Linked DNA regions of Homo sapiens: region 2 is linked to region 1. Evidence: fine-mapped expression QTL. A gene starts in region 1. The other region holds a variant in brackets. All regions are shown on one strand. Distances are from middle to middle.

Evidence for each region. PIP is the estimated chance that this variant, and not a neighbour inherited with it, causes the effect.
Region 2: its variant is fine-mapped to the expression of LINC01990 in nucleus accumbens (GTEx, PIP 0.97).

What each region holds. Positions count from the first base shown.
Region 1 is chr3:107,424,898-107,436,556 of GRCh38, reverse strand. LINC01990 (long intergenic non-protein coding RNA 1990) reads right to left here and starts at 5,627. Exons shown (of 3, transcript NR_110039.1): 1 at 5,599-5,627. RefSeq lists an enhancer at 4,432-4,621 and a silencer at 4,832-5,081.
Region 2 is chr3:107,456,682-107,468,340 of GRCh38, reverse strand. LINC01990 (long intergenic non-protein coding RNA 1990) reads right to left here. Exons shown (of 3, transcript NR_110039.1): 2 at 7,551-7,668; 3 at 4,429-5,768. Among named protein-coding and RNA genes, the nearest start is that of LINC01990, 32 kb to the right of the region's middle. The variant T/C (reference allele first, on the strand shown) is at 5,451.

The DNA.
Region 1 (11,659 bases):
CACCAGTTTAGGAATCAGAGTAGAAATTGTTTGGCAGCTCTAGCAGTATCAGAACTCATTTTCCTGATCAAATACAAAGCAAAACAAAATGGACTAATATTTGAGAAAGTGGTTTCTTGTTATCTAATTCAGAGAATTCTATTCTGTGAGTGATTCCAAGAATCAATTTGGATATTCCTTTTATTAAATTTCAAGGAATATTTCTCTTAATTGAAAATTGTGTGACCTACATCAGAAACACATTTGCACTGCTGTGCATTTCACAGTGCAGTTTCTCATCCATTACCTCATTTGATTCTCACAGTATCCCCCTGTTGGTAGACAGGGCAGTAGAGATATACCTGTTTCACAAAGGATTTAGCCACAAAAGGACAGAAGTGATGCAAGGTCATAGAGCTGGCAAACTGAAGAGTCAGGATTTGAATCCAAATCATCTGGCTCCAAATATTTCCAATATATTGTGTTACCTCTCCTCATTTAAGTTAATACAATTATAATGGTGATAACTACTGAGGTAATTCAAGCAATTTATCTAGGGGTCTAAATTACTCAAATAATCGACTGGATATTTTTGGTTGCTTTGCAAATTGAGACACAACCCGAGTGTCAATGAGGATTAAAAGAAAAATAAATAAATAAAACTGCGTTTCCAAAAAATGATATGTTTATATCCCTTATTTCTCAAATCTGTACTCTAAGAAATGCTTTTTGAGCCAAAAGTTCCGAAAGTGTTTTTGTTGGAGAATATAATCTCTTCTCTGAACTACAGACTTCATTAATTCTCCATAGCTTGCTATATTTCCCATTGCTTTCCTTAGAATGAAAGAATCTAGAGTTCTAGATTCTCCTCCCTGGTGATATACAAAGTCTACTTTAATGATATTAAAAAGTATATTAAACTATACCTATTATCTCACAAGCATTCTTTCTAATTACCTTGTGGTGAGCATATAAACATTACTAATATATCTAAATAAACAGACATATAAGATAGTCATGGTATTATTATATTAAATGCGAAATAAACCCTTCTAGAGATGCAGATTCCTTATCATATGAGATCAGTTTGTTAATTTGAGACCATTTGTCAAGGAAGTGGTCCATGGGTATACCTATTTGTGCTCCAGAGGTTCTGTAAATATTTATCAATTACCTTTTGAATTTTGCATAAATATACACAATGTGCTTTATTCACTAAAGAGTTGACCTGACATGGAAAATTTATTCAAGCAAAATCTTTAAGTGGCTAGTCTTGGGACACCCTCATGGTCCCGGATGGTACAGAAAACATTTGCCCACTCATAAGCTTCTAGCAGTATGAAATTGTGCAATAAGTACAAGTGGGGAGGTTGGATAAAACAGGACTCCTCTACATGTCTGGGAGGCCATTCCTTGGCTCAGAGTCTGACACATAATGGATGCTGAAAAAATATTTGTTGAATAAATGAATGAATGATCCAGTAGCTGTTTTGAAGGCCTTATCTACTCTATTGCTCCATTAATTGTCTCTAACCCTCAACAACTTGTACTGTCACCAATGGGGAAGAATGTAGGGACCTCCTTCCCTAATAAATGTAAACAGCATACATACAATTATAATTTAGCTAAAAGCATTAATACAAATGGAAAGAGCAAATACAGGGGTTGATTGACAAAGTGACTAAAGCTGATACGAGCTCACCAAAAGGAGAGACAGAAGGTTGAACTGTGATAAGCTAGAACTGGAAGGTCCTGGATCCATGGATATTTAAACTATTTGCTCAGTTCAGTTTAGAACAATTCAACAGATTCTATGTGTTGGGAACTGGGACATAGTGTTAGGTCCCCGGATTACAAGGTGTCTGAAAGTCAGGAAACAGTGTGTACTTATATTTAAACATTATTTTAGTTACATTTTCAAATCTGCTTAGTATGTTTTTCCTCATTCTCCAGAAAAGTTTCCAGAAGTTTAAATACCTCTAAATTTAAAGTAATGGGGTAATGTGAAAAAGTATAATAAATACACTATGTTTTCCTCTGTTTTCAGATTTTTTTGACATTCCGTAGTATATGACAAATGGACATATTGCTTTAAACATACTGAAGGTATTATTTGAAAATGTAACATTCTATTTAAAGTAAGTTTAGCCTCTTTCCTAAGTTTTCAGATACACTAAACAAAGTTTACATAGACAGATTCCTCAGGAGCTCTAGTGAGAAGAGAAGGATATGGAAAAACTCCTTATACAGATTAAGGATATGGAAACAACTCATTATACAGATTAAGAGCCATAAAAGAGACTATGTAAGGAACAGAAGAGGTCTGCTGCACAAGCACGAGGTTATTGCTCTGTGGGAGGTAGCAGAGGGTCAGGAAAATTCACATGTGTGGTGCTGTCTGAGCAGAGTTTTGGGAAATGAATGGCATTTTCCAAGAGACAGGTGTGGAAGGAAGGCCAGGCAGAGGATGGGAATAATGCAAGAACACAAAGCAGGGGACAGCACTATATGTGCAGAGGACTACAGCGTGTTTAGTATTGCTTAAAGTTTGATGAGAGGCAGAATTGTGGGTGATGAAAAGTAGTAATATCATGTAATATTTTATCTGCCTTCTTCATAAGTCTAATTTTAATTTTATCCTGTAGAATGGATGGGAGATCAGCAAATGATTTTAGGTAAAGGAAATAATTTGCTCAGAGTTGTTGAGAAAAGGCAGTAGTCTGCATGGTTCTCTCTTTCTTTCTTTCTTTTGAGAGAGGGTCTCTCTGTTGCCCAGGCTGGTACACAGTGGTGCACTATGGCTCACTGCAGCCTTGACCTCCTGGGCTCAAGCAACACTCCCATCTCAGCCTCCTGAATAGCTGCACTACAGGTGCACACCACCACACCTAGGCCGGAGTGCAGTGGCATGACCATGGCTCACTGCAGCCATGAATTTATGGGTTCAAATGATCCTCCCACCTCAGCCTCCTGAGTAGCTAGGACTACAGGATGCACCACCATGCCCATTTTTTTTTCTTTTTGCAGAGATAGGGTGGGGGTGGGGCTGGGGGTTGCGGGGGGGGGAGTGATGGATTGTCTGTGTTGCTCAGGCTGGTCTTGAACTTCTACTATCCTCCTGCCTTGGCCTCCCAAAGTGCTGGGATTACAAGCATGAGCCACCATGCCTGGCCCCCATTTTCCTTTATAATATTAGCGTTCTTACCAGGTAACATGAGCAGAAATGAAATAATCGAGTTTCACACGGTTTCTCTCTCCCTCTGGGAGAGAAACTAGATTAACAGTCAAAAATCCAGAAGGCAAGCAATTTGAAGGGGAAACTAAGGATAATCAAGATTTGACTGTACACTTTTTGTAACTGTTGAATTATTTACCTTCTTTGACTCCTCCTGGACTGAGCCAATGTAGTCTGGATAGTAGAAAGGACCTTAGCCAAGAAACCAGGAACAGCCTCTCTGAATCTCTTTCTGCAATTGTGTGTTTCCAGAAAAATTGCTTCTTTGAGTTTGTTTTCTGATCAGGAAAATGAGGAAGTTTGATTACATCAAGGCTTCTCAAGTTCTAATTCTATCACATTCACCTAAGGTGGTTCCAAAATATACAGATTCCCAGATCTGACTGAAGGACACATTGTAGAGGTTGGGCTGAGGTCTCTGTATCAGACTGGGCGTAAAGTGTAATGTCCTGTCCTGCCACTTATTAACTGGGTGACCTAGAGTAAGTTACTTCATGACTCGTATATTTCTCATAGGTAAAGCAGGGATGATAATATCTCTACTTCATATGTCCCCGGGAGGGTAAAATGATAGAATCCTTTTTAAGTAGCAAGTATATTGCCTGTCACATATTAATCATTCAACAGATGTTATATATTATTTGTATAGCCCACAGTATTCACTGTGTGTGTGTGTGTGTGTGTGCGCGCGCGCGTTTGGTGCAAGGTAGACGATCCATAAGTATCTGCTGCGTAAATAAAAGTTGTTTTTTTTTTTTTAGCAACTTCTTTTGTTCTCAGATCTGAAATGATTAGCCCAGGAATTACTTCCCTAAAAAGGTAAAGCTAGTTTGAGAGAACTGCTTAAATGTGGCGCTCAATCTTTGCTATCTTAGACTGAGAGCCTCATGATAATTAAAAAATAATTTAAAGATGAAAGTCCTACTAGAGTGGGCGAGCTGATTACGAAAAGGAATGAGCCTCAGAGACTGTTAGCCGGATCCAGCCGGCCACTGCGTAATCCACTCCAGTGACTCTCACCTAGGTGCGCATCTCCATTTTATCTCACAAGATGCCGTGAAATTCTCAAAGTCATTGTAACTACAATTGATTTTGAATCACAAAAAAAGCAATATTCCATTTTCCGTGTTGTTGACCAAGCAGAAAACAGAACGTAACTTTTAAAACGCTTGAAAATCAGGGCTATCAAAAATAGAGAACTTCTATTCGCCATGAACTCGCTGATGCAAACAATCAACGCACACTGAACCGTGTGTTTTTCTGGGTGGTGGTGGTCCCTCGCCAAATAGTCAGCGTTTGGTTCTCCGCGTCTGTAGCGAGAGGAGTTACAGTTTGGTACCGGCAGGGAGGAAATCGCCTCGCAATCTCTGGAGGTGGCCTCCTAGAAAGATCGCCGGGAGGGGAGGAGCCCCGATTGTCCTGGAAGAAAAGCATGGCCCCATCCGGGAAGTCACAGCTTGCCGGGAGCCCAGGGCTGGCGGCTCTGGGTCCTGGAGGTGGCAGACGGCGGAGCAGCCGGCCTCGTAGCCCGGGCCTGCGCGCCTGGCAAGGGGCTCAGTGTGTGCGAGTGAAAGACGCACACCGGGCGGACCTGCGTGGGCTTCGGCCTCGCCCCGCCGCGCGCGGGGTTGCGGCTGAACCTGACCAGGGCTCATCCCTGCCCGGCGAGGGTAAGGGCGGCCCGGGATCCGCTGCTGCTCGGATGGGAGCCGCTCGGGGCCGGGATCCCTGGGCCTTGCGGGGGCGCGGCAGCCCCTCCCCCCGGAGCCCGCGCTTCCGCCCGAGCCCCGGCGGCGGCGGCGGTGACCGTGGCCCCGCCGCGCCTTCCGCCTGGGAGCTGCCGCCGCCCGCCCGCGCCCTTGTGCACCGCGCCCACAGGCCGCGGGAACCCAGAGCGCCCGGGCCCAGGGGCCTCTGCCGCGCGACTGAGACGCACTCCGAGCTGGACGTGTGGAAGGTTCGGCCAGCTCGGCGTTTCGCCCCCGCTGGGGATGGGCCACTGGGCACCTGCAGCCACCCAAGAGCGGGGAGTTGGCCGGGCCCTGGCCAGGGGCCGCCGCCACAGCGTACTGGCAGGGAGAACAGAGCTAGCTAAGCCTCCTTCCTCTCCCAGATTCCCAGGGAAACTGGACAGCCCGACGCCCAGAGCGGACGGGCGAGAGCCCCTGAGGTGCCAAGTGGACCCCGGTTCTGCTGCTGCCACTGGCCGATTGGGGACGCCGGCACTTGCGCTGTGGGCGTGTGGTGGGGCATTTCCGTTATCCTCTCGAAGACACCCCGCCACTATTCCTGCTCAAACAAGCACAGTCTGGTGTGCAAGCCGACCGTACCTCCTCCCCTCCCTCCTTTCTTGCACGCACCTTCGTTCGTCTATCTATTCTTACCTTCTTCCCCAGAGCGCCAAGACAAATGTGGACAAGAGTGAAGAAGTTAGGATACTGCCAAGTGTGTGTGTATTGGGGTGGGGGGGTAGTAATAAGCGGGGAGAAAGTGATGAAAATAAAATTAGAAATCCCAGAGTATGTAGCAACACACACACACACACACACACGCACACACACACGTTCCCAGCCTGTTAGCAATCTTGGCTATGTCCAAGTGGAAGCAAATTTTAATGCTCGGTCTCAGAAGAAAATTTCACATATACAGGCTTCAGAGGTAACGGGGTAACCGATAGCTTCCTTTTACTTCTCGGCATTTATTTTTGCTTTTCTGAAGCATAGTCCTATGTTTATTAAAGGGACCACAGGAGTACACGCTGTTTGAAAGCCATTCCTGGACACCACTGAGGCCGGCTTCCCAGGGAGCCTTTGTCGCCTCTGCAGCAGAGGTCACTGGACTCTCCTCAAGGTGTAATGTGAGGGAACAGGTGCCTCGGGGGCTTGGGAAAACACCACGCTGTGCTCTGATGTGTGTCCCCATCCCGGGAGAAGGCAAGTGCTTTGCATAAGGACCAGATGGGTTGCTGAATAGGGAGGTGGAAAACAAATAGACCCTTGGGTGTATCTTGAACCCCTTCAACACCCCCCCTTCCCCACTCCCCGCCTTCACCGAAGCAGTGTCAGAGTCCTCTTCGATCCAGCATGCTCTCCTACAATGGCGAAAAACTGCATTAAAACGAGGCAGTCGGAGCTGACTGCGGAAACCCATGTTCTTAGAGAGTCGTCTGGCTACTGCGTAGTCCTGGAATATTCTTTTTTTCAAAAGGCCTCTTCCAGTTGATTCCAACCGGGTTCGGGTTATTGTTCTCACCACCGATAGGGGGCAGCAGGTGTCCTGCGATGCCCCGGGGATGTGCGCGCAGACTGCCCTGCTGTCCCCGGGAATCCGACTACACTGAACGTTTGGGGCAGAAGCAGGAGCTGCTGCCTCTAAGTCCACCGCAGCAGCTGCCGGGACTTGGGCCTCCCAGCCTGGGCGCCTGGGGGGGGCTTGCCCTGTGCAAAGGGTGGGCGAAACCATCTGTGCACCAAGCCTGCCCCTAAACTTAGCGTACAGCATAGATAAATAAACTCAGTTGTATGCAAATGCTATAATTAAAATATACAGTCATTTGAAAGTACTGTAGGCTCTATTGGAGTTTTTAATTGTTTTTGAGTTTTCTCAATCAGTAGAGAATTTAAAAATACGGCTATCACAGTCTGTTTGGAGGGTGGTGGTCTGTTACGTTGAATTTTAAAAGGGCGTCTGTCCCTAGAAGTTGGGAACTACTGATCCACAGAATCGTTTGATAACCGTGGTAAAGATTCCGAGGCATCTCGGAAGGGAAACTGGGAGGACTGAGCTAGTCCTAGCAGGGTGTGTGTCCGCCCGCGCCGCGAGGCGTGGGCAACACAGCCCCATCCCGGGAGCGCGGAGCTATGGCAGCTGGGATTGGTTCAGATCGAGAGTCCTGAGGGGCTGGGATTTCCTGAAAACCTACTTCACTTGGTAAGCCAGAGCGCTTGAGTTTTCGGAATTCCCGAGGAAAGGTTCTATATATTCTCCAAATCCACATTTTCTCAGATATAAGCACTTTTTCCCTAAATTAAAAATATATTTGGGGTTTGTGGAGCAGTAATTTTTTTGGAAGAAAGAAAAATCCAATGTAAAAATGTAGAGACTAGCTATTATAGTCATCTCTAAATAGATTTTTGAAGTGATAACGGCTAAATTATCCAAATGAAAAAAAATGTGTAATAGTAGTAACAAGGCTGTGCCCCTACTTTATGAATCTCACGCACAATTAAAAACTCTAATCCCTGAAATACCTTTGGAAGGGAGGGAAGGATTACAGACTAATTATAGGATTTATAACACAACACTAAGATGTTTTCATTTTATTACAATAATGAACAAAACATTGATGATATCTACTTTTAATGTAATTCTTCCAACATCATAACAGATTTTAGAAATGCAACCATAACCACTAGAGAAGGGAAGAATTTCAATAGCACACTAAATTGTCAGAAATTTCATTAACATGGAAAGTTCATATCATGATGTCAGAATATAGACTCTCTTCAAATTAATGATGAATACTAATTAAAGTCAGAACATTTGTAGGAAAGTATAAAATCTGTATCTGAGAGGGGAGAGGAGGAATTAGAGGAAGGAAAGGTCAGGGAAGTAATGTGAGTAAATCTGAGGGGGAGGATTTCCATATTGGGTTCATGATACTAAGAGAAACCAGAGGCCCAGCTGCTTCTATGGATAGCCCTACAGCTGTTGAACCGTGGGACAGAGGTCACTATGGCATTTGAGAACACAGATTATTCTTTGTGCCTAAAGATAAACCTGAACAATTTTTAAGTTTGTCAGGGACCAGCACTGTTCACCTTCAAATGTGTTGAAGGACCTGCACACTGAGCATGGGCAAGTTTTAGTCCATGTTTAAAGGAGCAAAACTATACCAAGGACCAATCACAAAAGTGTCTTTTACATTTTTTTGCCACAAATTGGCAAAAATATGAAATAATTTCAATATTGAAAGCAGTCTATGGATTTATAGCACAACTTGGTTTATTTGCTGAATAATAATGTCTATCATTTCCTGTGCCACATACCAGCTAAGCAAGGTAGATATGATTAGCTCTATTTTACATATAAGGAAACTAAGGTTCAGTGAACTTGATCGACGTGCCTACATTTACACAGCTATTAACTGGAAGGCCATTTTCTGATTTTAGAGCCCAGGCTTTTTCATTGTCTCACTGCAAACCCTAAAACTGCATGTATCCGTATAAGGGATTCAAACCTTGGATTCTCAGATATCTGATCACTGAGCAAAAATGGGAAAACTTATTTCTGTCATGATTTGAGTGACCAAAAACCAAAAGCTAAATTCAAACAAAACCAAAACCTACAGGCCACAGAGGATCTCAACCTCGAGTTTCTATATCCCAAGTGCTTTTTGGAAGTAATGATGGGGTGGGGAGGAATCTACAACCTAGTTTAAATTTTCAAAAATCTAAACAGATATTGCGTGATTACTGCAGAAAATTCTATTGTTTTTGCTTTGCCTGGCATTGCATAAAGTCAATCCAAAGTAGGAAAATAAATTTACTGTTAATAAATGTAGTTTGTTTGCTAGACAATATCTTTAATTATATTAGGTCCATGGAAGGGTTGGAAAATGATAATAATAAATGTTAAAAGGGAGGCTTTGGACATGGAAAAGAACCACTGATACTTGGCAAAATCTCGTATATTTATTCTATGTGTTATTAGTTCTGCCACTTAATAGTAGGTCTGTGATTATGAAGGAGTTGTGCTGCATTTAAGGATTTTATATTGCATTTCCACAAATATAAATGTTACCTGAAGAACACTAGTGTAAATTGGCCAACTCTAAATAATCAACACCATTCAGTCTGGGTCATAAAGCGCTGGAGGAGGAAGGGTGTGTTTGGAGATTATGAAATAGCAGGTCCCAGAGAACAGTTTCTCTAACTTCTCCTGATGGCTGCTCTTTCTCTAGTCCAGTGATTCTCAAATATTTTCGTCTTAAAGCCCCACAAAGCTTTTGTTTATGTAAGTTTATGAGGATTGCATCTATTGATACTACTGTATTAGAAATTAAAATTGGAGAAATGTTTAAAATATGTTACTTGAGTTACTTAATTTATAATAATGACAAGGCCATTACGTATTAACGTAAGTAACACATTTTAATAAAATAATAAGTGTTTTCCCAAACAAAAATTTGAGAAAAATGTTATTTTATATTTTGGAAGTCTCTTTAATATCTGGCAGCTGGATTCTCATATTAGCTTCTGCATTTTCATCTACTGTGACATGTTGTGTAGGTTAAGTACATAAGAAAATCTGTCCCCAAAGAGAAGCATCATTGAAGAAAGGAGTGTTTTCAGATAATTGTGGATAGTCTTTAATACTACTACAAAATCCTTCAAATGATAATTTCAAAAAAGTTAATTGCAATGGGGAATTTAAGTGCATATCAATAAACTTTTCATATTCTGTTACATTAAAACCCACTGGTCTATTGCTTGGATGTTTTACGCAAATCATAATACAGTGAGTGATTTGTAACAGCATGTAATGGTCACTGGGAAATTATTCCTTCACTGAATTATGCAGCTCTTCCAAATGTCTATTTCATTGTACAATATCAAAAATATCATATTCATTAGTTGTATTTCATCAGGAAATATTTTACATATTAGGATATGAATTTTCCAATATTTTAATTTTTACTTGTAAGTTCAAATAATTTTATCATTGGTTAAAAAAAATCTTGTCAATTGTTTTCCTAGAAGTGACAGGCTCACTTTGTTTATTTCTGAGAAAAAAAATCTGCCAAATATTCGAGTCTGAATAACCACAATTTGTCTTGTCAGTCAGTTGTTCTTTCAAATAAAAATGCTATTCTATAAAAAAAGTGACTAGTTCAACTTGAAACTCAATTGCACTAGTGCTTCTCCTAGACAGCCCTCGTACATCTGTGTGTAATAGAAGCACTTTACGTATCATTTCTATTTTGTCCCACAAAATATTAAAAAGACATACCCTAGAGGGTCAGGATTTAATAAATTTAGTCAAATACCTTTTTTTTTTACTGCTTTATCCAGTACATTCTTGAGTGAAACTGACTTTTTTTTTTTTTTTGCTACAATTTGATTCCACTTCCTTGCTTTGTGCCAAGACCACCACAGTTTCACCCAGCATCAGTGAAAACACTGGCAAAGTGAAAAAGGCAAATATCACCTTAGTACTTTAAAATAGTTCTAGCCTCACAGAACCCCTGAGTCTCGAGGACCTCCACAGACGCTTTGAGAACCAGTGCTCTAGTCCTACAACAGTTGTTATCTGGGTCACTCACTTGCTACTTGACTACATGCTACCTTATGTTGTTACTTGTCTTCTGCTGCCCACAAATCTAACCTCCCTAATTAGGAACCGTATTATTTATGTATGTATCCTGAGGATGGTTGAAGTGCATGGCAGGCAGTACAACTACAGTTTTTTGATGACTGATTGACTGACACATTGGAATTAGTGGTTCATGTGCACTCTTAGTTTATCGCAGATCACATCCTAGCTGGTTTTGCTTTTTTACTTATGTTACCAAGTGAAGAAATACATTTGGGGGAATATATTTATTCTGAGGAAGGAAAGGGACATTCGTCATGATACGTTATTATTTTTCCAAACAGATATCATCATTGGAAGCCATGTTTGTTTGTGTTCTATTTTAGCTATTCCATTGCTAGTACAGGAAACAACTTTCCATACCAGTGGATGAGAATTTGAGTCCAGTTTGTGATGAATTTAAAATATGACAGTCATGAATGCCACCAGAGGAATGGCTTCTAATAGTAAAGGGCTTGTCCAATTTGTACGGCAAGCTGCAAAACACAGCTGAAATTTGGACAGTTCATTAGTTTCACTCCTTGGGGTCATGCAAGACTTCTTAAATGTGTGAGGAAGTTCTGTTGCCTGTGAGGTCACAAATCAATCTACTATAAATAGCAATATGCCTGTATTTTTTTCACTTTTCACACTCTTAGTCTTTACTATTAGAAATTGTATAGTGGCAGAATCATCCCTTAATCCAGCAAGGGGAAGTGAAATTATGCAGCCAATTGATTACTGGGAGCAATACCTCATTTTCAGTGTAGGAAATGACTTCCCTTTTTGCAGATGAATTTGCTAAGAATAACTTAACAGATATGTGACTCAGTGATATTAAAGAAGGCCAAGAAAGTAGGTAAGGATACACAATTTACATTCTTTTAACATGATTAAAATTTAGATTTGAACTTGCTGAGTACTAGGTGTATTCAGGCCTATTACCCTAAAGTAGCATGTCCGGTGACAATATTTCACTATTAACCCCTTCCAAGAGGAGATATGTCTAACAAATTAGCATCTAGATACATGTGCTAGTGCAACTGAGAAACTTGAATTTGAATTATAATTTAAATTTTAAAACAGATTCTC
Region 2 (11,659 bases), 32 kb before region 1:
AACAAATTATCTGTAGCCTTCATATTCCATACTTTTTGTTGTTGTTGTTGTTGTTGTTGAGATAAGATCTCACTCTGTTGTCCAGGCTGGAGTGCAGCAACGCAGTCATAGCTCTTGCAACCTTGATCTCCTGGGCTCAAGCGATCCTCCCTCCTCAGCCTCCTTAGTAGCTGGGACTACAGGTGTGCACCATCAGGCCTAGCTAATTTTTAAATTTTTAGTAGAGGCAAAGTCTCATTAGGTTGCCCAGGCTGGTCTCCAACTCCTGGCCTCAAGCAGTCCTCCTGCTTCAGCCTCCCAAAGTGTTGGGATTACAGGCATGAGCCACCACACCCAGCCTCATTCCATAGTTTTTGAGTTACCTGGTATTGAGAGTCACATTTCCATGTACCTGACCCGTTTCACCCACTGGCCTCTAAGCTCACTAAAGACAGACCTTTGATCTATGTTTTTTTATAATACTAGCCCCTCACCTGATGTGTTGCACCCAGTATATACTCAATTCCAAAAATATGTTTTATTAATTTTTTAAATTTTATTTTATTGAGACAGTGTCTTGCTCTGTTGCCCAGGCTGGCATGCAGTGGCATGATCTCAGCTCAGTGCAGCCTCAATCTTCCGGGTTCAAATGATCTTCCTACCTCAGCCTCCCAAGTAACTGGGACAACAGGCACACACCACCATGCCTGGCTATTTTTTTTTTTTTTTTTAAATAGAGACGAGTTCTCACTCTGTTGCCCTCACTGGTGTCAAACTCCTGAGCTCATCACGCAATCCTTCTGCCTTGGCTTCCCAGAGTGCTGTTGTTACAAGTGTGAGCCACTATGCCCAGCCCAAATTATTATTTAATGAAACCAAGAATTTTAAAGCACATGAGGGTGTTTTAAAATTGTTTCTTTTTAAAGAGGTGGTTTATTTTGTTGCCCGGGCTGGAGTGCAGTGGTGCGATTTTGGCTCACTGCAATCTCTACCTGCTGTTCAAGTGATTCTCCTGCCTCAGCCTCTTGAGTAGCTGGGATTACAGGCGTGCACCACCACGCTAGGCTAATTTTTCTATTTTTAGTAGAGACGAGGTTTCACCATACTGGCCAGGCTCATCTCAAACTCCTGACCTCAAGTGATCCGCCTGCCTCAGCCTCCCAAAGTGCTGGGATTACAGGCGTGAACCACGGCATCTGGCCTATACCTGTCATTTTTGTGCCCACTATAGAAAGATAAACCAGCGGAGTTCTATTATATTACTTATACAAATTTTAAGTTGAGAGCATCCAAATTAATGAGGTTTTACTGTACTTATGAAATTAATTTGACAATTATTGAAATCAAGATCTTGTAGAGAGAGTGTGTGATTCACATTAACAGTCTCTGAATATCCTAATTGTGTAGTCTTCATTCTTTTTGGCCATCATCTCTACTGCAGCATTTATTCACATTTAGCTCTGTGTTTTCACCCCAAAGAGGCCCAGATCTTGTAACTTTTCTGCAACCAGAAAATCTAATTCATTGTTAACAGACACAGTTGTGTGTCTGCTAGGCTGCTGTAGACATAACCCTTTAAAAGTTAGCTTAGTTAAAGGAAACAAAATAACACAAAACAATAGAGGTGTGTGTGTGGAAATCAGTGTTGTATGGCCTGGACCTATTCTTACCGCTCTTATAAAGCAACTCTTTCTGTGTGTGGTGTTTCAGCTTTACTTTAATAATTAGCAAGTCTTGGTAGATCAGAATTTCACTTGGGCCTTGTCCCTTAGAAAATAGTGTTAGAGGTTCCTCTGCCAGTGGCATTGGCAGCCAAGAAGGAACAAATTAAGGGATCAGTCTGTACTCACATGTAGAGACCTTTACTTCTTGGGATGATCCAAATATCTGCGTAATTTTACAATGGAGATAAAAGTTGATGAAATACTTTTGAATAGATTGTGCATATAGATATGGCCAGAGAGCTTGTGGATGTAGTTGTTCAGATGCAGTTACTCTGCTAAAAGGAATACAGATACAACTCAAAGGTACATAAAGAAAAAAATTCTGCAGGAAACTATACTTAGGATTACATCTCTGGCATTTATGTTTCTTTATAGTATTAGCACTTTACCTGATGTCTCACACACAATGTATGCTTGATTCCAAAAATATTTTTTATTTTTATTTTATTTTTTTGAGACAGTGTCTTGCTATCTTGCCCAGGCTGGCATGTAGTGGCATGATCTCGGCTTACTGCAGCTTCAATTTCCTGGGTTCAAGTGATCCTCCTACCTCAGCCTCCAAAGTAGCTGGGACAATAGGCACACACCACCATGCCTGGCTGATTTTTTTTTTTAATTTAATAGAGATGAGTTGTCACTCTGTTGCCCAGGCTGGTCTTGAACTTCTGAATTCACTCAATTCTCCTGCCTTGGACTCCCAAAGTGCTAGCGTTACAAGTGTGAGCCACTTTTAATGGCTCACCCTGCAAAATTTAAAAATTATTATTATAATTTTTTGAGAGAGAGTCTCACTCTGTCACCCAGGCTGGAGTGCAGTGGCATGATCTCAGCTCACTGCAGCCTCCACCTTCTGGGATTAAGCAATTCTCCTGCCTCAGCCTCCCAAATAGCTGGAATTACAGGCATGCACCACCATGCCTGACTAATTTTTGTATTTTTAGTAGAGATGGGGTTTCACTGTGTTAGCCGGGCTGGTCTGGAACTCCTGACCTCAAGTAATCCTCCCACCTCTGCCTCCCAAAGTGCTGGGATTACAGATGTGAGCCACCACACCGGCCCAAAATTATTATTAAAGAACAATAAAACACATGGTTAGGGAGTAGCAGTTTATTTTAATTATGTTCCCTTTTGAAAAACATCTGACAAATATTGCAACTAGTAATAAGGTGCCCAGACAGAAGGGATTTCCCAGAAAGGAGAGGTCTGTAATCCAGGTCTTACATTGTTAACCTCAGGACTGGCTACAAACTTATTGCCTGATACAAAATGAAAATGCAGAACTCCTTGTTCAAAATGTATTAAGAATTTTTTTAGCACAGTAGAGCATTAAACCAAGTAGGGATGTGGGGCAGGTCGGGGAGAGGTGCTTGGGGACTGTGTTACTGGTGTTACTGTATAAGTCCTACACTTGTGAAACCAGTCCTGGTTACCCACCAGTTACTGAGATCCTTCTCCGCAAGATTTTGTTCTTAGTGTTTCTTGATTAAATGATGTATCCCTGGACACACATGAGAAATCCAGATTATGACTGAGTCTATAGAGGTGCTATGTAAACATGATTCTGTGATTTTTTTTTCTTATTATTCTGTGATTTCTTAATATACTAGAACCCTTATCTATCCCCCAGTGGAAGACATCAAAGATTTTTTGGGTAGGGCTGGCTCTTAATAGAACTCAATAATAGGGCCAGGTGTGGTGGTTCATGCCTATAACCCCAGTACTCTGGGAGGCCAAGGTAGGCAAATCACTTGAACCCAGGAGTGCAAGACCAGCCTGGGCAACATGGGGAAACCCCGTCTCTACCAAAAATATAAAAAAATTAGTCGGGCTTTGTGGTTTGCATCTGTGGTCCCAGCTACTTGGGAGGCTGAGGTGGGAGGATCGCTTGAGCCCAGGAGGTTGAGGTTGCAATGAGCCGAGATTGTGCCATTGCACTCCAGCCTGGGTGACAGAGCAAGACCCTGACTCAAAAAAAGAAAAAAAAAAAGGAACTTCAATAATTCATCCTAGAAGTATATGCTTGCATTCCTTCCCACTTGATTGTCAGTTGTTAAAAGCCAAGACCCCAGTCTTGGGATTCTGAGATTTCATGCAGTCATCTACCCCCATATAGTTTGGAATGAGGGAGAAATGGCAAAGGCACTTACATGATTATTTCACTATGGCCTTTCTCACAAATTCCTCCCTGATCTCTGTCCCTTGCTGAAACTGAATCTGTGTACTCCTTTTCTTTCTGGGCCACCTTCCAGGCAGGTGGAAGCCATCTCCTCTAGGCCTTTTCTCCTCCTTCCCAAACCACCCCTCCAGGCAATAGAGGGATGAGGATCGATCTTCCTGAACCAGAGAACTTGGTCTTTACTCCTGTTTCCCCACACTCTACTCCTCCTTATCTTGGAGGCCCAGCTGTATCCTTTAGTTTATCTTTGACTTGTATGACTTTGTTCTCCCTAGGGATAGAGTCAGGGGATAGAAACACTTCAGTTCTGTCTTGAAATTAGAATAAAGATGCAGAGGGCATGAGACCCACCTCTGCCGTAGATTCAGTTTTGATTGCTTAATCAGGTGAGTTTTATGTGTCTACTAAATCACAAATAATTAGAGAACAGCATGTGTTAATAATCCTGAAAAATCCCAGGAACAGTTCTATAGCAGTGCCTCCAAATGTGATTAGAATTCTTTGCTCACAGACAGTATATTTCTTCCAAGTCTAAGAAAACACATGTGCTGTGTGAATTAATTTTATTGTACTTTTTCTAATTAGTCTTCAAAAGGCTTGGCTGTTTTGCTTATTGGTGAGCTCCTGTGACAAACCAGGGCATTCGATTGAATTGTAAACCAACTTATGACATTGAGCAAAGCAAACTTCCAAACAGATTGTGATTCTTCTTATCAAAGCAGTTATGAAAAAAAAGTTGTAGAAAAGGCATTTTTCGGGCAATTTAAAAATTAATGTCTGGTAAATGAGAATAATTCTATCTATCCTCTTATTTATTTCAGAAGAAAAATTTCAGAGTTTTTAAGGTATTTTTTAAAATGGGAAACTTAATAAGGAAATGGCATTACTTCTACTACTACTATTATTATTGTAAATATATTTAGGTATTATTTAATACTTAAGTAATTTTAAGTAATTTATTTAAGTATTATTAGTTTTTAGAATTCGTGACCTCTTATGGCCAAACTGGTTTTTAATAAGCTAGAATTTAGTAATAGGTTTTTTCCATTGAATTAGGTTTTAATAGAACCTAAGTTATTACTTAATGGATAATTTCTACTTGGAAATTGGTAAGACATATTGAGTATACATTAGATATGCTGAAGGGGCTATTTGTCAAAATTACCTGTTTTATAGGTATACTGAACACAATTTTCAATCTGTTATTAGTAGAACAATAATACTGGTCTACTTCATAGGATTTGTGGATTGTACTAAACATATTTAAATTCAAATATGTTTTTTGGCTTCATTGAACTATAATTAACATACGATAAACTGTGCATGTTTAAAGCATACGATGTGATGCATTTTGACACCCTTGCAAGCATCTCCATCAAGGTAGTGAATATATCCACCACCCTCAAAAGTTTCCTTCTGCCTGTTTATCATCCCTTCCTTCCTACCTCTTTTCAGGGTGCCCTTCCCTCCACTCCCTAGGCAATCACTGATCTGCTTGTTTTTCATCACTATTGGGTAGTTAACATTTTCTAGTCTTTTTTTTTTTTTTTTTTTGGTCTGGCCTCTTTCAC[T/C]CACCATAATTATTTTGAGATTTCTTCCTGTTGTTGGGTGTTGTTTTCCATAGTTTGGTTCATTTTTATTGCTGAGTCAAATTCTGTTGAATACACCATTTTCTGTTTATTCACCATCAAATGTTTTGTATGTATTTATTCTTTTCTTCTCTAAGCTAAACTTCATGTTCACTTCAATTCTGCCTCCCGAAGACTTCATGGTATCACAGGAGTTTTGTTGTCAGCCCATCACATCTGGATCCAAATCACAGCCATATCTCTTGTGAGTGTGTGAACACGGCCTTTGCAGGTTTCTTCTCTGGGCTGCAGTGTCCTTATCTGAAAAATGAGCATAGTAATATGTACCTCTTAGGACTGTTGTAAGGGTGAAATATGTAAAGCATATAGAACAAAACTTGGCACACAGTAAGTGCTATCTGGTTGGTAGTTATTATTATTACCGTCATTAATTGCATATGATATGTTTGGTAGAACTTCCAGCCCATAATAAACTCTCAACAAATGTTAGCTATTATTATTATTCATACTAATATCACTATAGCACATAACAACTCTTCATTTCTTTCCTTCCTTCCTTGTCCCTCTTATGTTTTCAGTCTCTTCACTATTTTTGTTACTAATAGTACCCGTGTTACCTGACCAGGCAAAATAAAGGAGGGCAGTGATTTCCAAAGTATGATCCCAGAACCAGCAACATTAGCACTGATTTGGGAACTCATTAGAAATGCAAATTCTCAGGCCCCACCCCAGACCTACTGAATCAGAAACTCTGGGGGATGGGGCCATGGTCTGTGTTTTAACAAGCCTGCCAGGTGATTCTGATATAGCTAAAGTTTGAAAACTAGTGCAGTCGGGTAATCGCCAGGCTGGTGCAGGAGTTAATGCAGGCTCAGTTCACGTCAACTTTCTTGTTAGGAAAAGCACACTGTTGACTAATTGAGCTTAATATCAACTAAAACCCCTAAGTCCTTTTCACACATGTTGCTGCTAATCCCCATATTCTCCATCTAGCACTTGTACAGGATTCTTTTTGGACTGAAGTATAAGTCTTTACATTTATCCCTATTAAACTTAATCTTGTTAGATTCGGCCCATCGCTTCAGTCATGTTTGGGGAAATTTTAGTTCAGCTGGAATGAACCATGACAAAAAAGCAGGGCCCAGAGACCAAGGAGGAATGTTACAAGGACAACATCCTTTTATATATTGGCCGAATACTGGCCAATGAGATACTGACTATGGTGGGCTTCTAATTAAACACTTGAGACCCTGGGGGGATGTGGTAATTTGATTTCAGTTTAATTCAACTAACATTTATTGGGCACCTACCAAGTTCCTGGCTGTGAACAAGGTACCAGAGGGGGTGCTAAATAGCTCACTCTTTAATGTCAGATATTAATGTCTACTATCTGACATTAGTAGTAGAGACAAGTAGAGATGAAGGGGTTTTTGGTTTTGGTTTTGTAGCAGGCACATTGTAGCCCAATATACCAATACTCACAAGTTCCTTAAGGAAGATAACTAATATTCTTTGAGCACCAGATCCTCCACCATATGCTTTGTTGACACTTCCATATTTAATTTTCAAAGCAATCATAGGAATGATTGCCCCATATAAATTTGAGGAAACATAGATACAGAGGTTAATGCATTTCTTCAAGGTCACACAGGTAGTTAGCAATAGAGCCAGAGGATGCTCCAAATCTGTATGGATTTAAAGAACATACTGCATATAAGCTTTCTCCTTGTGATCAAGAAAATTAAGCTCTTTAAATATCAAAACCCCTAGTAGCTTAAAGTCCAACCATAAACTATTGATTTATAATAGTTAGGTTTAAAATCCTAAAAACATTAAAATAGCGATACATTACCTAGTCCTATATACACAGAATAGTGCATTTAGCTGTGCTCACAGTCCTAATTTAAAACAACAACAACAACAACAACAACAAAACTTATGTTTGGGCCAGGCGCCGTGGCTCATGCCTGTAATCCTAGCACTCTGGGAGGCCGAGGCAGGTGGATCACTTGAGGTCAGGAGTTCGAGACCAGCCTTGCCAACATGGTGAAACCCTGTCTCTACTAAAAATACAAAAATTACCTGGTCGTGGTGATGCATGTCTGTTATCCCAGCTACTCAGGAGGCTGAGGCAGGAGAATCACTTGAACCAGGAAGGCGGAGGTTGCAGTGAGCCAAGATCGCGCCATTGCACTCCAGCCTAGGGGACAGAGCAAGACTCCATCTCAAAAAAAAACTTATGTTTGGTTTTGTTTTTATTTGCCTCTTTTAAAGTGTTAGCCACATATTTTAATCCATCTATATCACAATATTATTATATAAATATACAATATTAATACAATATTATTAATATTATAACTCCAAGTTGTTACCTGTAGCAACCAAATCTTTGGAAAATATATAATTTTATCCTCTAGGGGGCAAAACTAATCAATTCTATTCTAGCAGGTAATAGCTGTTATATTTTACTGATACATAATGTGCATTTTAGTAAAGTATCTTGTAGTGTAATGGAAAGACACTGGACTTGGAGTCTAAAGATAAAAATTTGCTTCCACTTACTAGCTATCTCACCCTGGGCAAAAAAATTTAACTTATATAAACCTCAGTTTTTAGATCTCTAAAATGGGATGATAATGTTCATGGGGTTGTGAAAATTAACTGAAATAGTATTTATGAAGTTTCTCTGTGGTCTGGTAATGTTTTACAAATATAAGGTTTTTTTAAACTTATCTATTTTACAAGCTACCAAAATGTGAAATATTTTGGACACTTCTGCCACCTACACATCTACCTAATTCATAGAGTAGAATTTGAAATTTTTGAACTTCTCTGAAAATGCATCCATTCTTTCATAGTTTCTTTTTAGCAGTAGAGTTTCCTGTAGAATTACATACAAGCAGTGGAATAGAACTGATATTGAAATTCTAGATTCTGTTTGTTAACTTGCATTTCAAAGATAAATTCTGTTTAACCAGCATTAATATTGTCAACACTACTGGCATCATCATTATAAAAAGATTCCCACTAGGTGCCAGCATGCCTGAAGCCATGTGCTATGGTTGTATAAAGTGAGTTAAGCTGGTAAGAAGCCTAGTTCTTTAGGACTTTATAATATGGGCAGACTTTACATGAATAGGGGAAAAAATAAAGATATGCATTTGAATCCCTGGATTTAAACCCCTGCTGTATCCCTTATTAGGTGTATGACCCTAGGCAAATGACAGTCTTTTAAACTTCAATTTATTCATCTTTATAATTGGGATAACAGTACCTACCTGATAGAGATGTTGTGAGAATTAAATGCTATGTTATGGATAGAGTGCTTAGTACAATAGCAGTATTTAATGCCCAGTTAATATCAGATATTATCTGAGCTAAGAACTCTATACTGCAATATCAAACTCCTAAACTTTTCATCTTTCTTTTCTGGTCCTCATACCATGCAAAAATGGGGTTACTCTGATAATAATGAATAAATGTGAAGCCTGGAAATTACTGTCAATCACCTGCACTGCTACATTAACCCCCTGGAATCACAGAGTCTTAGAGTAGGAACCCCAGACTTCGAAAGTCATTTAGACCAATGACCTTGTTTTGCAAATGGGGAAACTGAGATCCACTCAGGTTAAGTGTCCTATCCAAGGCTATAGAGCTAGTTTGTGATGAAGCTGGACTAAAATCTGGGCTCTACACTCAAAGTATGTCACTCTCCCTCCTCCATACTGTCTCCCTAGACAGCTTGGTCATTTTAATCCCTTCTTATATTTGCCTTGCCAATAGGACCATGCTGTTCTGGCCTGCTGCCAATTTAGGCTGTCCAGTTCCAGCCAAGTCTTCATGGTTAATCTTGTTATTCATCTCCTCTTTTTTTCCTAGCATGTAAGTTTCACAATGTATTTAGCAGGGGGAAAAACCCAAAACCTGCCTTTGTTTTCCAAATAAAACCTTATTTGTGTCAAAAAAAAAAAAGTGAAATCAATAAAAGCTTCCTTGTTTGGATAGGGATGGGTTGTGAGTCCACAGGCCCATAGGCTCAGCTCAGACCCTTCATTCCCATTCCCTCTAAAGTGGTCCCTGAGGGAGTTCTACTGAACTCTCAGGTTTCTCTTAGCAACACAGTTTAAAAGTTACTATCTCACATGTACACTTAACAATGGTTATTCCTGGGGACTCTCAACTTGTCAGGAGCATCTCAGGCCACTTCCATATGTGTAATCCTGTTTAGCATTTCTGTATTTTTTAATACGCTAAACAGGATTACACAAATTATGACATATTTTAAATGTTCCCACTCAATAGATTAACATTTTAAATTCAGATAAAAAATTGATGACAGCAGGTGTGGCCTCCTTTTGATATAACACCAGAAGTTGAAAATTGAGATACTTCCACTTCCATCCCCAACTTGGCATTGGCCCTTACTTTTCTTAACTTGGCCTGTTCCTCAATTCTCAAGATCCAACTCAACCATCATTTAATGGGTGTCCACTATGTGTTAAGTTCCCCAGTAGGTACTTGGGCCACAAAGATGAAAAAGATATAATCTTTGCTCTTCAAGCAAGTAGCAGATTAATAAGGGTGACAGCTCCAAAGTGGTCCCTATGGAACTGTGTCCTTTCATGCCTTTGAGCAGTTCCTGGCCCCGACTTGTGTTAATAGCAGTGGAGGTGACACAGTGCCAGTTCAGGGCCCCCTTTAAGAGGACTGACAGCTTCTGATTCCTTCCTTTTGGAACGCTCTTACACCCTGAGCAGCTGTATAAGAAGTTGGGCTGCTTTGGTGGAGGGACCACATGAAAAAACATGTGGAGAGACCTCATGAAGAGAAAGAAGCCCAGCTTTCCCAACACCAACATCCCAGCTTGAGCCCAATCCTCCAACTATCTCAGCCAAGGTCCTAGACGTATGAGTGAACTGTCTTACATGCTCCATCTTTATGGAGCCCTAAAGTTGACTGTAGCTCCAGCTGATGTCACGTGGAGCAGAACAACCACATAGCAGATCCCAGTCAACCCATGGAATGTTGAGACAATAATAACTTAGTTATTACTTAAGTCATTATGTTTTGGAATGATTTGTTACATAGCAATAGATAACTGAAACAGATGGGTAAAAAAATGATGATGCCATGTGGTAAGTTCTACCGTTAAGGTATGTACAAACTGAAGTGTTAGCATTGACAAAGCACTGACTAGACATTATTGAAATTGGGACTAGGAGTATACCAGGATTCATGGAGGAACTGGCATAATGAGCTGAATCCTGAGGAATGAGTAAAATGTCATCAAGTAAAGAAAGTAGCATGTATAAAAAAGCTTAGGAGAACATAGTAGCAATACATATTTAGTATGTAGTTCAGTGTCAGTTGGGAGATAAAGCATCACAAAGGTATACTAGAGCCAACTATAAAGGCCTTTTCTTGTCAGGCTAATATTAACCTGCAGGCAGTGGAAAGCCAATGATAGCTCTTAGGCACTGCTATGAAATGAGCAGTTATCATATCTGTTATCTTAGGCTTCCTTCTCCTTAGCCATTTCACACTATGGATCACTTCCTCTTTCCCCTTTCTCTTCTTCTGTGACTTTATCCAGGTTTTCCTCCTGCTGATCTATAGATGTTTCTTTTTTGGCTTCATTGGTTCCACTTACTTTTCTACTGGAATTTCTCAAATTTCTGTCTTTGGTTCTCTACTCATCTTTCCCAGTATTCTCTTTTGGCTGCACCTGAGACTCCTTGGCAGAAGATTTGAAATCTCTGTCTCTAGACTGGCCTTGCTTTCTAAACGCCATGTTATCTCAGACAAGTAAAACCTAATTCAGTCCTCTTTCCCTCCCCACTTTCCCCCTATTTTTTCTTTTTTTAAAAAACTTAATCCCAAATGTAATAGTATCCACTTTCCCCCTAGAAAATCCAGTCCCTTCTCTTCATTTTCCCATTTCTGTCATTTCTTTCTATCACCCAGGCTTACAACTTCAGAATCACGTCTTTAATTCCCAACTTTCTCACATACTTAACTATCACTCAAGTTCAATTGTTCCTCCTTTACACTGCCTCTCACATTTTTTGTTTTATTACTTTCTTTATAGTTTCCTTAAAATTTATGTTGATCTTGCCAATCTCCTGCTGTATTATTTTTTCAAGGCCATTGACTCTGTAGCTGAAAAACTGGTCCTTCCACAATCTGGTCCA